Homo sapiens: one gene and its partners. The protein of the gene in region 1 purifies or fractionates together with the protein of each later gene. This does not show direct contact. Each region holds a gene or a part of one and is shown on either strand. Other genes may lie near its edges. The genes, in order: DNAJC4, MCCC2 and CACTIN.

The links.
Region 2: the proteins of DNAJC4 (region 1) and MCCC2 purify together in Homo sapiens (affinity purification with mass spectrometry, with the first as the bait; one large-scale study listed by BioGRID). This does not show direct contact.
Region 3: the proteins of DNAJC4 (region 1) and CACTIN purify together in Homo sapiens (affinity purification with mass spectrometry, with the first as the bait; one large-scale study listed by BioGRID). This does not show direct contact.

The regions. Positions count from the first base shown.
Region 1 is NC_000011.10:64,228,995-64,232,739, forward strand, and holds the start of DNAJC4 (dnaJ homolog subfamily C member 4), read left to right. Parts: upstream 1-1,553; 5' UTR 1,554-1,860; coding exon 1,861-1,946; intron 1,947-2,173; exon of another isoform or gene 2,174-2,376; intron 2,377-2,876; coding exon 2,877-2,970; intron 2,971-3,435; coding exon 3,436-3,620; intron 3,621-3,706; coding exon of another isoform or gene 3,707-3,709; coding exon 3,710-3,745. Other genes in the region: uridine diphosphate glucose pyrophosphatase NUDT22, read left to right, coding at 253-350, 484-577, 856-996.
Region 2 is NC_000005.10:71,600,695-71,604,339, forward strand, and holds part of MCCC2 (methylcrotonoyl-CoA carboxylase beta chain, mitochondrial isoform 1 precursor), read left to right. Parts: intron 1-1,811; coding exon 1,812-1,939; intron 1,940-3,645. UniProt on the Homo sapiens protein: Carboxyltransferase subunit of the 3-methylcrotonyl-CoA carboxylase, an enzyme that catalyzes the conversion of 3-methylcrotonyl-CoA to 3-methylglutaconyl-CoA, a critical step for leucine and isovaleric acid catabolism.
Region 3 is NC_000019.10:3,616,704-3,620,348, reverse strand, and holds part of CACTIN (splicing factor Cactin), read left to right. Parts: intron 1-76; coding exon 77-222; intron 223-1,106; coding exon 1,107-1,269; intron 1,270-1,359; coding exon 1,360-1,474; intron 1,475-2,433; coding exon of another isoform or gene 2,434-2,519; exon of another isoform or gene 2,520-3,645. UniProt on the Homo sapiens protein: Plays a role in pre-mRNA splicing by facilitating excision of a subset of introns. Required for the splicing of CDCA5/Sororin, a regulator of sister chromatid cohesion. Involved in the regulation of innate immune response.

The DNA of each region.
Region 1 (3,745 bases):
AGTAAGTGGGAGTCCCAGTCACTAAATTGACTTCTCTTGGGTGACCTTGGGCAACGTGTTCAATCTCTCTGGTTTTGGTGTACCTGTAAAACAAACATGCCCATCATCTGACATTCTGTAATGCTGGGTCCTTGATCTACAAGCTATAAAATGCTGTACACAGGTAACAGGCGGTTTTTCATTGAGACGGGCAGGGATGTGGGCAGTGGCATTGATAGGTGGGACCTCCCCCCACCCCACCCTCCACCGCAGGTGAACCTGCCGCTGCTCACCCTGAGCCAGCCCCTGCTGTTGGGCATCGCCCGAAATGAGACCAGTGCTGGCCGAGCCAGTGCCGAGTTCTATGTCCAGTGAGTAGGCTCGGGTACATGATCCTGGGTCTTGGGAAGGTGGGTGGTGAGGAGTGGGCTGAGGCAGCTGTGGCTCCACAGGTACCCCGCAGGGGCTGGTCACCCACTAAGCCACCCTTGTGTTCTTGTCCAGGTGCAGCCTGACTTCTGAGCAGGTGAGGAAGCACTACCTGAGTGGGGGACCCGAGGCCCACGAGTCTACAGGAATCTTCTTTGTGGAGACACAGGTGCAGAGTGACAAACCATCTTGCTTGGAGGCCAGGGCTGGGGCCTGCAGAGGCCTGGCAATGCATATCTTGTAGGGGAGGTGTTGGCTGGGTCACAATTCCCTCCAGAGTCACAAGATTTGCCCTCAGTGCAAGGGAAAGGTCCAGGGACATGTTCAGCCCCTTAACATGCCTCCCTAAGGACAGTGCAGAGGTCTCTGAGGCTCAGGAATTCTGGGCACAGCCCTGGCAGGAGAAGTGGCAAGCTTGAATGCCTGGGTCTCGTTGTCTCCCCACAGAACGTGCAGAGATTGCTCGAGACGGAGATGTGGGCTGAACTCTGCCCCTCGGCCAAAGGCGCCATCATCCTCTACAACCGGGTTCAGGGAAGTCCCACTGGAGCGGCCCTAGGGTCCCCAGCCCTACTCCCGCCGCTCTGAAAATAATAAACGACTTTATTCTTGGATTCCGTTGGCATCTGCTATTTCTGTAACAGAGAGGAGCAATGGGCCCTGAGTGTGTAAGGCAGGACAAGTGACTTGGGAAAAAAAAAAAAAAAAACCCGCCCAGCCTGTGTCCCCCTCTGCAAGCAGGGGATAAGAACTGTGCCTCCCTTTCTTTGCTGGCTCCAGAGAGGCTCCGGGGCGGAAGCAGCTCCGTAAGATATACCTCGCTGCAGAGGGGAGCAACAGCGGAACGGAGACACGGTGGCCGGGCCGAAAACGTCACAAAGCCGCAGAGAGCGGGCTCTGTCCCGCCCGCTCCCCAGGTGGGCGCCCGCGCCTGTCCAGCGAGTCCGCAGGCTGGGGGACCGGAGGCACCAAAGGCCAATAGACATGTAGGGGCGGGGTCTCCACCGATTTTTTTTTTTTTCCTGACAGGTGGACGTGGTCTTGGCATCCACGCCAATGAGAATGTGAGGGCGGGGCCTGAATAGACGCAGGAAATGGCGACGGCCGCGGGTCTGTGAGCAGCGGGGGCGGGGCCTGGTTGTGGCCCCTCCTTCTCCCGTCCCCAAGTTCCCTGGGTGGGAACGGGGTCTTGGGGTCCCTGGCTGGGTGGCCAGACCCCGAAGCCAGCGCTGGGAAGGGCTGCGGATGCCCGGGTCAGAGGAAGGGGCAGGTCCAAGGACACGCGGGTCTGGTCCTGGGCAAGAACCGCCCCCTCTCCGGGCCTGCTTCAGTCTTCCTTTGCAGAACAACGGGCCAGGCCCCTTCCCTCTGCCCCCGGGTGCTTGAAGTCTAGCCCCATCCTGGTCCAATGCGCTCTTGGTAGCCTCCTTTCCCAGCTGCCCGCCCGCCGCCATGCCGCCCTTACTGCCCCTGCGCCTGTGCCGGCTGTGGCCCCGCAACCCTCCCTCCCGGCTCCTCGGAGCGGCCGCCGGGCAGCGGTGAGTTGGGCGCGGGGGGCCGGCCCGGTTGTTCAATGGGTTTCTGTTTGCCCTACGTGCTGAGTTAGTTGTGGTCTCTACTCCGTGTCAGGAGGCTCCCAGGTTTGTCTCAGGTAACCCTCGCCTTCCCTGCTGAGGATCAGAGATAGAGAAGACCCCCAAGGTCATACACCGATTTAAGCGGCAGAGGAGGAAGTTTGAGTCCAGGTCAAACCCAACGCTCTTACCACAGCTCTAGTGGTTTCCAAGCATCGCTGTATCACTGTGCATAACCCTCTGTGGGGGGTGGGAGATGGGGAGGTGTCGGGTACAAAATCCAGATTCCTGGGCTCTGCTCTGGAGATTCTGAACTGGAGGAATCAATTGGGTGGGGGTCAGGAATCAGTTTCTTTCTCTTTTTCCTTTTTTTTTTTTTTTTTTGAGATGGAGTTTCGCTCGTTGCCCAGGCTGGAGTGCAATGGAGCAATCTCGGCTCACCACAACCTCCGCCTCCCGGGTTCAAGCGATTCTCCTGCCTCAGCCTCCCGAGTAGCTGGGATTACGGGCATGCACCACCACGCCCGGCTAATTTTGTATTTTTAGGAGAGACAGGGTTTCTCCATGTTAGTCAGGCTGGTCTTGAACTCCCGACCTCAGGTGATCCGCCCTCCTCGGCCTCCCAAAATGCTGGATTACAGGCGTGAGCCACCGCGCCTGTCCAGGAATCAGTTTTTTCCAACAAGTTTTTGGACTCCACTTTGAGAAATCCTGACCTGCACTATGCCTGAAACACTCCAAAGGGGGTGCTGATCTGGAGACAGATCTGTCCTGGGACCTGTTTCAGCCCTGTCAGCTCCTGGTGGCTGAGTTGAAGGGTGTGGCCCAGAAGGCAGGGCAGAGCTAGCTTCTGGGTTCCTTCAGCCCCTGCAAGGTTTGGGACTCTGTCCACAGGTCCAGACCCAGTACTTATTATGAACTGTTGGGGGTGCATCCTGGTGCCAGCACTGAGGAAGTTAAACGAGCTTTCTTCTCCAAGTCCAAAGAGGTACCCGTACCCCTGAGGTGGGGAGGGGGAGCAGGAACTTTGAGCCAGTGGGGGTGTGCTTCAAATTCCCAGGAGTAGACCAGCATCTCTGGCGGGTGCCACATTTTTTCAGCCCTCATAGGGAGTGGCAGGTGCTCAATGGTAGGGGAAAGGCTGTGGGCAGGAGCCAGGGGTCCTGTCTGATGGGCTGGGCTTGGTTTTCTTGACCTGCCTGCCTGCTCTTGAGAAACCTGGACCAGGGCATATGGTGAATGCAGGGGGCTGGCAGGTGGGGAGGGCTTGAACACAGGAGGAAGCAGGAGTCCATGCTCTCTGGCCTTCTGAGGAGTGGGCAGGCCTGAGTGAGGGTCACTGACCAGGCAGGGCCTCTGGGTATGACTGGAGCCCTGGTGGGTGGATGTCATCAGCATGGGTCCTGGGGAGGGACAGGCAAAGGGAGATAAGGGGAGTCCTGCCCCACCCCAGCTGCACCCAGACCGGGACCCTGGGAACCCAAGCCTGCACAGCCGCTTTGTGGAGCTGAGCGAGGCATACCGTGTGCTCAGCCGTGAGCAGAGCCGCCGCAGCTATGATGACCAGCTCCGCTCAGGTAGTCCCCCAAAGTCTCCACGAACCACAGTCCATGACAAGTCTGCCCACCAAACACACAGGTACAGTAATCCTGCCCTCAGCTTGCCCCACCCCCAGGTCTCTTGGGTAGTCTCATTTCCACAATGTCCCTTCCTCTGCCTCCCAGCAGCTCCTGGACACCCCCCAACGCACAGTACTGGTCCCA
Region 2 (3,645 bases), on another chromosome or scaffold:
TTAAGCAAAAAAGAGGATATATTGATTCTCTTATCTGGTGAGTCTGGGCATGGCTGTATCTGGGAGCTCAAATGGTCTTAGGTATTACTAGGTCCCAGGCTGTTTTCTACTCCTGGCCCTGACTTGCTGTGTGTCAGCTTTGTTTCTAGGCAGCCTCTCTAAATCCAGAGGCAGTGATGGTCATAGGCAGTTCCTGGTTTATATTCTATAAGTTTAGCAGCTGCAGTGGAAGGCAAGATCTGCTTAGGCTTAGAGCCTGTCCCATTGCCGAGCCTCAGTGGGAACTCTGGGTAGAAAGACCTGGTCCCTGTGCCCCCCTTTAAGGCAGGCTCTGGGGTCAGTCCTACTTGAGCCACCTGGATTAAAGATAAGAGGCAGTTTCTGAAAGAAGGTTTAGTTTTGTTGCCAAAATAATAGATGCTGGGTAGGCAAAACCAATAGAAATGCAATCTAGTATTTTTGTGGGCCAATTTGATTTCTCATTCTGTAACAAGTCTGTGACCTTTAATAGACAAGCAGATATGGCTATGTCCCTTGTCCATGGTCACATAACTAACAAGTTGGCAGAGCCAGAATTTCAGTCTAACTTTGTCTGACTTCACAGCCTGGCCTCTTTCCAGTACCAGAGCTTCTTAAACTTTCTAGCGTAGCACCCCCAGTGGTAGGAAGTATGAGCACACACTCTGGAGTGTGAGGTTATGGCCCAGCAACCTATGAGAAGCCTACATTTCCTTTGAAGTCTAGTTCGTTTAATGTTAAATCATTAAAAGTTTGCATTCTACTCTATAAAATGTTCATTGCAGTGCAGAAAAAGGTTTTATATGACCTAGGGAATAAAATTGATGCTCAAAGAAGAGTCCTGTTTGTCTTGTGGCGAGCCCTGCTGGCCACATATCCTAGTATGAGAAGCTCAACACTACCCTGTGCTGGGTGTTCAGTTGCCGTTCTCTATTTTCAGCAGGGATTTAATGACTCACTCTTTAGAGTTGTAGGCAGCATAAAGTGAGGTAACACAAACATCAGAAACATAAAGAAAATTGAATTTTGTAAAGAGCACACTGTTGTCATCTCAGATTTCAAGGGTACCTCTGACCTTAAGGTTTCCTGCCAGTGCTGTACAGTTTCCCCAACCAGCTGTGGTTGTTGGCCGCCCTGCTCTTTGTGACTCATACCCAATAAACTGGTTTTGGTGAGAAAGGGCACTGTTGATGACTCAGGATACCTTTCATGTGTTTTTAGTATATTAAAGTTTGCATTCATTCTGACTTCAGTTAAGATGAACGTTATATTTTAGACTACATTTAGTTTTGTAGAAAACCATGGGGCTGTAATGTTGAAGAACAAGAATACAAAAAATAAATCTTAGTACTAAAGGTCAGTTTTCATTTTTGCAAAATACCCTCCTAAAAGGAGACTTTGAAGGTTTATTATGAGGGAATTCTTTTCCCTTGAGACTTGGATTTTTTTTTTCATTATTATTTTCATCTTATTAGGACCTTTTCATTCAAAGAACCATTATGACACAAGGCTTAGGTTGTTAGTTTTTTATTACTAATCTAGGACTGATGACTTTTCAAAAACCAAGTGTGAGTTTATAAACTTGTTAGAAGTAATTGTTTTGTATTATATAAATTAATATGTGAACTGTGATTAAAGTTTGCATTTATATCCTAAGACTGCTGTCTGCTAATGGATGTTAATAGTGATACGTACTAGAAGTTGAAGGTTGTATTGGGGTATCTTGTAATGAGTGTAATTAGTTTTGAAGAAATCTCTTAAATTCTCTCTCCAATGAAATTTCTGCCTTTCAGAGTAGAATGCATGATTATTGCCAATGATGCCACCGTCAAAGGAGGTGCCTACTACCCAGTGACTGTGAAAAAACAATTACGGGCCCAAGAAATTGCCATGCAAAACAGGCTCCCCTGCATCTACTTAGGCAAGTCACCAGAGTGGTAAAATAAACTATTATTAGCTGGTAAAATGCAAGATAGTTTGGAAGGCTGTATGTATTACATTTGGGATGGGTATTTTATAAACCTGTTGATTTCTCCTGTAATTATAAAGGAAACACAGGTTCTTTGCTGAAAACTCTGGGGGAAAGTAAACAAGAACTGTTCATAGTACTAGTGCATAATACTCATACATTTTGACGCATGCCAGTTTTTTTCTCTATGTGTTGTGTGGTTTTTTTTTTTTGTTCTCTAGATCCTGTTTTTCTTTTAACTTTATGGATCATACTATGAAAAAAATAGTAGCAAGTATTTATAGATCTCTTGAGTGCCAGGTACTGAGTTAAATGTGCAAGTATTATATAATTTGAGCAGATGTAATTTAAAGTAAATTTAATTTCCAGTGAAAGTAAACTTATATTTGAAATTAAAACACATTTAAATCAAAGAACCTGAAAGCAAAGCAGTTTAAAATGGGCCTTTCCTCCGGGCGCGGTGGCTCACGCCTGTAATCCCAGCACTTTGGGAGGCCGAGGCAGGCGGATCATGAGGTCAGGAGATGGAGACCATCCTGGCTAACACACTGAAACCTCGTCTCTACTAAAAAAAAATACAAAAAATTAGCCGAGCGTGGTGGCAGGCAGCTGTAGTCCCAGCTACTTGGGAGGCTGAGGCAGGAGAATGGTGTGAACCTGGGAGGCGGAGCTTGCAGTGAGCTGAAATCGTGCCACTGTACTCCAGCCTGGGCGACAGAGAGAGAGACTGTCTCAAAAAAAAAAAAAAAAAAAAAAAATGGGCCTTTCCTGATACTGGGTTAGTCTGATAAAATTCCAACATACGTTGTTCATGTATGCAGGTATTTGAACGGGTACTGATGTAGAGGTATTTTTTGTTTTGTGTTTTTCTGTGAAGTTGAATTTACCTGATTAACTCACAATACGAACTGCTCTGCACGTAGAGAAAACAGCAAATGAGGCCCAGCTGCTTGTAGGTGCTGTGCTGGTCTTTATAGGGGATACAGTGAGGAGGATTTTGTTGTCTCTGTCTTCAGCGAGCTCATAATGAATTGGACACAGCATATAATGTGCAACCAACAAAAGACTTAATGGTTGCAGATTCTGAACTAAGTGCTTTCTATACATTTTTCAAGTCATCCTAATATATGATATGGCTCCTTTTTTTATCTTCATTTCGTGGGTAAGGAAACCGGGGCATAGGATGGCTAGGAAACACACCTATAATCACACAGCTGTGAAGTCATGAGCTCTGCTTTGAACGCAACTGACCTGTGTACCCACCACTCCAATCTGCAATGAAAACAGTATCAGAAGGCAATATGTATAAATTATTATATGAATTCTGTGGATGGCTTTTGTATTGGTTTAGAAGAAGGAAAGATACTTTTCCACCTTAACTCTTTAAGAATTTATGATGTTTCTGGGGCTTTAGCTGGTCCTCAAAGGAGAGAAGGTTCTAACCATTTCGAGAAGAATTTTGCACAGAGGTGGGAAAGCCTGATGGGTTTGGGGCAATGAATCCTTTTGGCTGCATTGGGGGTTTGGAGAACGAGGCTCTATAACAGTTTAGAAAGACAGGGCAAGTTTTTTGTGAATGTGATTAAGAACTGATGCTGTCATTGATACAAGTTTCCCTCTGCGTAGCACATTTAGTTCATAGAGATGCTTATGTTTCT
Region 3 (3,645 bases), on another chromosome or scaffold:
CCATCATCACAGCCCCTCCCCCCGCAGCCCTGCAGACCGCACGGTCCCCGCTGCCCTCAGCCTCCTGTGCCTGCAGGTGAAGCAGCTGCGGCTGGAGCGGGAGCGGGAGAAGGCCATGCGCGAGCAGGAGCTGGAGATGCTGCAGCGCGAGAAGGAGGCAGAGCACTTCAAGACATGGGAGGAGCAGGAGGACAACTTCCACCTCCAGCAGGCCAAGCTGCGGTGCGCTGGGGCCTCCCCCTCCCTCCGACCCAGACTTGGAGCCAGGGCCGGGCACTGGCTGTCACTCTGGAAGCCACTGCTCTCCCACCCTTCAGGGTCCCACACGGCACTTCCTGGGACCTTCCCTTCCTGACCCCTTCCCGGGCGGCAAGGCTTCTGTCTCCTGCCCTCCCCTGCTGGGCAGGGTGCAGAGGAGACGGGCCCAGGTGAACGGCACCCCACGCATGCTGGACGCCAGTCCTGCACTGACTGCAGTTGTCCCTCCCACACTCCACCCAGGAGGGTGGCACCCCCATCCGCCTGGTTTACAGACAAGCTGAGGCTCCGGGGTGTCCCTGCTTGCCTTGGGCCCCGTGGCGGGTGACATCAGGCTCCTCCCAGCTCGGGCCTCCCTGGTGACGGGTTCCCTTGGGTTGGACCAGGGCCCGCCTGCAACGCGTACCCCCCTGCAGGCCCAGAACAGAAACCCGGCTCTCTGCCCCGAGTGGTCTGCCTGGGGGAGGAGGTGGTTGCAAGGCAGTGACTACTCTGGTCCCCCAGCCTGCCTCTGCTTCAGCTCCTCCACTCTTCCCCATCACAGCCCACATAGAAGCCGCCATCCTGGGCACATCCCAGAGGCCCTCCAGGAAGCCCCTCCCACCTGGCCCACCTCCGGGTCCACGCTGCTTGCACTTTGTCTGCACTGCTGGCCTGCGCCCTTTGGCTGACCCGGCTCACTCTACCTTATGCCTCCTCCTCCTCCTCCTCCAGGAAGCCTTCCCTGACCACCCCCAACGGGTCAGGCCCCTCCTCGGCTCCCACTGGTGTGGTCACCCCAAGGGCAGGGTCTTTAGCATGGAGGGCACAGCCCAGGCTCTGATGCCACCTTCCCCTGCTCCCCACAGTTCCAAGATCCGCATCCGGGACGGGCGGGCCAAGCCCATCGACCTGCTGGCCAAGTACATCAGCGCTGAGGATGACGATCTGGCCGTGGAGATGCATGAGCCCTACACGTTCCTCAACGGCCTCACCGTGGCCGACATGGAGGACCTGCTGGAGGATATCCAGGTACCCAGCCCCACCCGATGCTCCTCTGACCTGCACCCTCACCCCCACCCCAGCCACACCCGTGTCCTGACCCCTGCCCCCTGCCCCCAGGTCTACATGGAGCTGGAGCAGGGCAAGAACGCCGACTTCTGGCGGGACATGACCACCATCACCGAGGACGAGATCTCCAAGCTCCGCAAGCTGGAGGCCTCGGGCAAGGGGCCAGGTAACGGCGGGCATGGGCCTGGGCTCCAGGGGAGCTGCGGGGGCTACAGTGTTCACCCAGAAGCCTCAGACTTGCTGTGGGGCCTGGTGCTCTCTGCAGGCCTCGGTTTCCCCAACTGGGGCCTCCCCTTCTGGGCCGAGCCACCAGGGGGCAGCAGCGGGCAGTAGGCCCTGGGAGGGATGAGTGGGGCGGGCCTCTGTCTGGGGTGCAGGGCCAGCAGCGTCCAGACCCAGCGTCCCGTTAACGCTGACTCGGCGGTGCCGGCCTTATGGGAGCCACGGGGCTTTCCGCTCAGGTTTCAGTGCTCTCAGTGGCTCTGCCTGTTTGACAGCAAGTCTCGCTCCACCTGGCCTGAAGGCCGTGCAGCCCAGCTTCAGGGCGCTACCTGTCCCGTGCGTCAGTTCGTGCCCCTCCAACCTGATGGGCTTTTAAAATCACGTTTCCCCCCCCTCCGTGTGGTTGCACACACATGGTCACCGGGGATGCTCTAAAGCGTCTACCCTGAGCACTGCGGACATGCGGGCTGGGCCGTTCCCTAGGGTGGGGCCGTCCTGGACACTGCTGGGTGCTGAGCAACGTCCCTGGCCTCCACCCAGGGTCAGGAGCACCCCTAGTCCTGACAACCGCAGATGTCCCCAGACGTTGCCCAGAGTCCCCTGGGGGCAGAATTGCCCTAGATGAGACCCCCCCCCCCCCCGGTCTAAAAGCCAACCACAGCAGCCCTGCCCCCTCCCCGCCAAAATCCACGCCCCAGCGGCTGCTGTAACAGTGCCTGGCTCTCATGGGCCACGCATCCCTGTCGATAGACCCGGTCCTTCCCCTGCCCTCCCTCTCAGGCCTTGGGTGCCATCATGGTGGCCGAGGATCCCAGGAGGCTGGGTCAGTGTCATTTGCAGCCCTCAGCGTGGTCTGTGGCAGGTCCTTCCTAGGAAAGAGCCTGTGGCTTTCCTCTTTTTCAGTGGAGCTTTGTGTTCCCCGGAGGTGGAGTTCACTCAGCCATCCTGTCCCTCCAGTGGTCTCCTCCGTGGGGCACATTCTCCCGTAACCTCAGAGAGGCAGGGCAGTTCTCCAGCATCAGAGGTGTGTCCGTTAAGGGTCTTGGTGTGCTCCTGCTGGTGGCAGCGGGGCTGGGCAAAGACTTCTGGGTGCAGTACATTTTCCTTCAGAAGCCGCAGACCCTACCCACCGGCTGCAGGAAGCCTGGGAGGCGTTTCCAGCGTTGCCCTAGGCCCCGCCCTCTCCTGTAAGACTGGGAGGCGTTTCCAGCGTTGCCCTGGGCCCGGCCTCTCCTATAAGCCTGGGAGGCGTTTCCAGCGTGCCCCACTGCCCTAGGCCCCGGCCTCTCCCATCCCTTCCATGGCCTTCTGCCTCCACCACGTCGCTCAGCCCTCCTTTCCCCTCACGCGTTACAGTTGGGGACCCCAGGTGGCTTTGGTGTCTTCCGAGGGAGTTTGTTTCTGATTCTCCTTTCAACATGGTTTCCAGGAGTAGGGAACCGAGGGGTCTTGACTTTGCTGTCCCCCTGGAGACCCACAGAGCCCCTGTCCTGGATCTTCTTAAATTAATTGGGGTTTTCCTTTTACTTTTCATTTTTCAGAGACAAGGTCTCGCTCTGTCGCCCAGGCGAGAGTTGAGTGGCGCGATCAAGGCTCACTGTAGCCTCGACTTCCTGGGTTCAGGTGATCCTCCCACCTCAGCCTCCCTAGAAGCTGGGACTACAGGCGCTCACCATCACACCCAGCTATTTTATTTTTTGAGAAGGAGTCTCACTCTGTCACCAGGCTGGAGTGCAGTGGTGCGATCTCTGCTCACTGTGACCTCTGCCTCCCAGATTCAAGCGATTCTCCTGCCTCAGCTGCCCAAGTAGCTGGGATTACAGACGCGCGCCATCACGCCCAGCTAATTTTTGTATTTTTAAGGAGACAGGGTTTCACCATGTTGGCCAGGATGGTCTCAATCTCTTGACCTCATGATCCTCCCACCTCAGCCTCCCAAAGTGCTGGGATTACAGAAGTGAGCCACTGTGCCCAGCCACTTCTGAAAATTTTTTGTAGAGATGGGGTCTCACTGTGTTGCCCAGGCTAGTCTTGAACTCCTGGCCTCAAGCAATCCTCCTGCCTCACCTCCAGAAGGGCTAGGATTAAAGGCATGAGTGACTGCATGCTTTTTCT